Linked DNA regions of Homo sapiens: region 1 is linked to region 2. The links come from fine-mapping of genetic effects on gene expression. Tissue or cell type: pancreas. Region 2 holds a variant in brackets; the other region holds the start of a gene. All regions are shown on one strand. Distances are from middle to middle.

Region 1 (2,605 bases), 27 kb before region 2:
TCTCTCCCACTTCTAAGAGGGTAGTCTATCTCAGCCGCTGCGGGGTCACCAACAGAGCCTGGACACAGGAGGCATCTGGCAAATACGCGCTGCATGAATCAATGACTCCAGTGCCCACGCGCAAGGGGCCCCTGGGCTCAGAAAACCCCACCAGGCGGGCCCCTCCGAGCTCGGCCTGTCCTGGGGGTGGAGGAGGAAGTTCGCCCCGCGCCTGCCTCGCAACCGCAGCCGCCTCCGTGCGCTTCCTGCCCGCGCCGCCCTCCACACTGCGCTCCGTGTCTGGCAGCAGCCCCCGCCTCGCTGGGCGCGTTCCCGGGGGTCTCGGTGGCGGGAGCCGCCTTCTTGTGGGACTTGGGGGCACGTGGCGCGGGGCGGGGACGCGGACAGACCCCTCCCGCATCCTAGGAGGCCTGGGAGGGTCCGCGGGGACGCGGGGAGGGGGCACCGCCTGGCCGAGGACCCTCCCCCGGTCCTCCCCGCCCCTTCCCCGTCCCTTCCACGCTCGCCGAGGGCAGGACTTCGGTTCCGCGAGACCGGAGGCCCCTCGTCCTCCTCGGAAGCCGCCCGCGGCCGGGGACCCCAGTCCCGCAGAGGAGGGCGGCGCTGCCCCCGCCTCCCGCTTGGAGAGCGCCGCCCGCAGGTGCCCACGGAGGGGCCGCGGCATCCCAGCGCCCTCCCAGGAAGGAGCCGAGCGGATCACCGCCGGCTGCAGCGGAGGTCGGGGCGCCGGGGAGGGGCGCGGCTAGGGGGCGAGGTCGAAGGGCGGGCACCTGCGGGTGGGGCGGGGCCTGAATTAGCGGGAGCGCCCGGGAGGGGCGGGGCCGGGGCCTGCGTGAGCGGGTCGGGGAGGGGGCGGAGCCTGCGGGGGGCGGGGCCTGCGTGAATGGGGCGGGGAGGGGCCGGAGCCTTGTGAGCGGGGCGGGCCGCGTGTGCGGGGTGGGGGCGGAGCCTTATGAGCGGGGCGGGGCAGGGGCGTGGTCGGGGCGGGGCGCGCGGGCGCCCGCGGCGGCCCTCACTTCCTCTGGCGAGCGCAGCCGGGCGGAAGTGCGTCAGTTGTTATCTGTTCGGGGCGCCGCCGCCGCCTCACGAGCCCGGTGCCCAGGAGCCCGGCCGCCTCCCGCCTGCCGCCTGCCGCGCCCGCCCGGCCCCGCCCGCTCGGCCCGATCGCCGCGCCGCGCGCATGGGGCGCGCCCCCGGGGGGGCGGCCGAGGGCCGCTGAGCGCCGGGCCCGCCCCCGCCGATGCGCCCAGCCGCCCGCGCCGGGGGTCCCAGGCCGCGCCGGGCCCGGGGCTGAGCCGCCCCCCGCGCCCGGCATGCCCGGCCCGGCCCGCCGCCCGCCGCCGCCCAGGGCCCGAGCCCGCGCGGCGCACACTCAGCCCGGCGGCGCCGCGTAGCCGAGGGAGCCCGCCTGCTGCGAGCCAGGCGCGGGGCGTCAAGGTCACCGGCCCGACGGGGCGCACGCGCGGCCATGGAGGCCAAGGTCCGCCCGAGCCGGCGCTCGCGCGCGCAGCGGGACCGTGGCCGGCGCCGGGAGGCCGCCCGCGACGCCCGCGCCCAGAGTCCGTCGTCGGGCGACGAGCCCGAGCCCAGCCCCGGCAAGGAGAACGCGGGCCTCCGCGGCGCGCCCCCCCGAGGCGCCGCCCCCGCGCCCCGCACCGCGCGTCCCCCGCGCCGCCGCCGCCGCGAGTCCAGCTCGCAGGAGGAGGAGGTCATCGACGGCTTCGCCATCGCCAGCTTCAGCACCCTGGAGGCCCTGGAGGTAGGTGGACGGGTGCGGCTTCGCAGGCGTTGAGGCGAGAACGGGGCCCGGAGTTGACGCGTCGGGCGATCCCGGGACCCCTGGGCTTGCGACCGCCCGCGCCGTGGGCAGCCCTGAGGGAAGCCCCGGCCACTTGGTACCCGTTCCAGGGACCCTGGGTGCCCACCGCTCGCCCAGACCGTCGCATCTGGAAGACCCAGCAGCGTCGGGTGGGTTTGGGGACGTTTTAAGTTGCAGAGGCAAAAAAATCTACGCTTCGAAATTGGGGGCTGTCTGACAGCACCGTCGGCCTTTTATCAGTTGTGTTTCTGTGGCCAGCATATCGCTCTGCCTGGTTCAGGACGTGCTAGGGAGCAGTGCTGGATCTTAGGGAGGTGGTGATAAAATGGATACTCCGCGGGCCATCCCGTTCCCTCCTCCCTTCGAGGGCTCTGCTGAGAAGGGGAGAAGGAGGGTTAATCTCAAGACCCCTCTTGGTGACTGCTGCCTGCTGCATGGTTAATAGATTGGCCAAAAATATTGCTTGTCTGGCTGACGGACAGTATTTGCTGAGCAAATACTGCTCCTCTTACATGAACTCAGCTGAGCAGAGAAGGAAATTAAATGCTGTCTGAGAGTTGGGGCAGGCGCTGTCTCCCCAGGACTGGCATGGGCAGGAATGCTAGCAAGTTGCCCTGCACCAGGGCCGAGACCCGCCCAGCGAGGTGTGCCCCGTGCAGCACTTACTTTGGGGGACCCTCATCTGCTGGACTTTGACTCCCAGAATCACCCCATTTCCAACCCCTCTCACTTTTCCAGGGGCTTGGGAGCCCATGGCCTGGGATCCCCCAGTCTCAGAAGCTGAGC
Region 2 (2,500 bases):
GAATATTAGGAACAAAAGGGGAAATATCATTACAGGCACTATAGACACGAAAAAGGTGAAATGGGGACAATTTTATTCCAACAAATTCAACAGCTTAGGTGAAGTGGGCAAATTACTTGGAAAACAAAACTGACACAAGATGAAATAGATAATCCGAATAGTCTTTTTTTTTTTTTTTTGAGATGGAGTCTTGCTCTATCACCCAGGCTGGAGTGCAGTGGCACAATGTTGCGCAAGCTCTGCCTCCCGGGTTCAAGCAGTTCTCCTGCCTCAGCTTCCTGAGTAGCTGGGATCACAGGCAAGTGCCACCACGCCCAGCTAATTTTTGTATTTTTAGTAGAGATAGGGTTTCACCATGTTGGCCAGGCTGGTCTTGAACTCCTGACCTCAGGTGATCCACCCACCTCGGCCTCCCAAAGTGCTGGGAACAGGCGTGAACCACCACGCCCGGCTTAGATAATCTGAAGAGTCTTACATCTGTTAGATGGAGTTTCTGGATGTCCACGTTTTCTGTCTTCAGTGCCACCTCCCCCAGCCTGCTCAGCACCCTGTCGCCAGCCTAGCCTAACACTTGAAGTCTTTTCTGATCGTACCAGGCACATTTCCACCAGTTAACATGCATCAGCTTGTTTAACTGCAACCCTGTAACTATTCCCATTTGCCGGATGAGGATGCTGAAGAAAAAAAGCCGCCTGTAAATAACTTGCCCAAGGTTCACACAGTGAGCAGCTGGACCAGGATTCAAGCCCAGCGGCTTGGCTTTGTTGTGGAATCTGTACCCTGGGCCATTACCTGGAGGGCAGCTTTCTGGGCCTCAGTTTTCCTGTCTGTAAAACGGGGATGTTACTAAATAGTTCATTTGTTTTCGGGTTGTTGAGATGATAAAATGAGCTAACATGCAAGGTTTGTACTGTCTACATAGCTGCCATGATGATATCGATTCCTGCTTTTATTATTATGAATTCTCAGAGTAATTTCTCCCGCCTCCTGGGCCCAGCCTGGCTGGTTTGAGGCCCAGACGCTAGAGGCTTATCTTTGTCCCGGTTGCCAGGCAAGGGTCCTCCTGTGCAGGGCCTGTGGAGAGAGGCACTCAGTTAATCAGTGCCTTAGACACTGGGCCTGGGCCTGCCACCTGCAGGGAGCAGCAGGCTGGGTCACAGGGTCCTAGAGCTTCCTCCCACCTGACAGGGCCCTCCTACAAACCAAGAGTTGGTCCAGGGGAAGGGGCCACTCAGGAGGGCTGGGGGCCACGCCGGCCAGGGTGCTGTTAGGTGGGAGTGGAAGAGGAAGGCTGAGCACCTGGGCCTAGCAGGCACTGCTCCCCACAGCCTGGGGCTAGCCGTTCCGGGGCGAGCATGGCCACCTCTGCTTTCCCAGCCTCACTCTGGTCGGGAAGGCTCTTCCGACTGGCATCCATTTTGTACTTTTGGTCATTCCGCCCCTGTTCTGGGCCTGGGGCTGCAGTGACAAACAAGACAAGTGACCGTGCTGCCCT[C/T]GAGAAGTTAAACTATAACTGGGACAACAGCAGAGCGGGTGGAGACTGTTCTGAGTGTGAGCACAGCTGTGCCTGGGAAGGAGAGAAGGCACCGTTAGACCAGGCGGTCAGGGAAGAGCGCTCTGGGTAGAGGGTGTAGCCACCCAGGCCTCTGGTGGCGTGTGCCTGAGGAGCCGAGCGGGCATGGGGTGGGCAGACAGGGCTAAGGAGGGGCCTGGTCTCATACAGAGGGAAACCACTGAGGGTTTTAAGCCAGGGAACAACGTGAGCTCCTGTGTTTTTACAAACTCGTGGGGGAGGCAGCACGGTTGTGGGGGTGGTGGCGCCTGTCGGGAGGCTGCTGCAGCCGTTCAGGAGGGGGTGGCAGTGGCTTGAATTAGGTCATTCTTCTGTTGGACAGGGCGCCAACTGAGCAAGACCAAGTGATGCAGCCCAGGCGGCAAATGTGGTGGAGCCAGGAGTCCAGTGGCCCCAACTCCAGAGCTGGCGGCACACACCTGCTGGAGTCCACTCTGACACAGCATAGCTGCTGTTCCCACCCCTCCTCCGGCACACAGGACTGCACAGGCAGGGCCTTGCAGACACTTACCTGCACTTGCCCACACACACTAGTGTCCCCAAGAGCCTGCTGGCAACGCACTTCCTAGGCCTTAACTCAGCCAGCATCCCTCATATCATCTGTAGTGTATCTCATCCATCCATCCACCCATCTGTCCATCATCCACCTGTCTGTCCATCCATCCACCCATGCATCTACCCATGCATCCATCATCCACCCATCTGTCCATCCAGCCACCCATGCATCTGTCCATCCACCCACGCATTCATCATCCACTCATCTGTAGTGTATCTCATCCATCCATCCACCTGTCTGTCCATCCATCCACCCATGCGTCCATCATCCACCCGTCTGTAGTGTATCTCATCCATCCATCCACCCGTCTGTCCATCCATCCACCCATGTGTCCATCCACCCATCTGTCCATCCATCCACCATGCATGCAT

The links. PIP is the estimated chance that this variant, and not a neighbour inherited with it, causes the effect.
Region 1: FBRSL1 starts here. The variant in region 2 is fine-mapped to the expression of FBRSL1 in pancreas (GTEx, PIP above 0.99).

The regions. Positions count from the first base shown.
Region 1 is chr12:132,489,103-132,491,707 of GRCh38, forward strand. It overlaps FBRSL1 (fibrosin like 1), which reads left to right and starts at 1,049. Exons shown (of 19, transcript NM_001367871.1): 1 at 1,049-1,759. The coding sequence starts at 1,469. RefSeq lists enhancers at 10-139, 2,137-2,605 and silencers at 330-399, 530-979.
Region 2 is chr12:132,516,030-132,518,529 of GRCh38, forward strand. The region is part of intron 2 of FBRSL1 (fibrosin like 1); the gene reads left to right. Among named protein-coding and RNA genes, the nearest start is that of FBRSL1, 27 kb to the left of the region's middle. The variant C/T (reference allele first, on the strand shown) is at 1,496.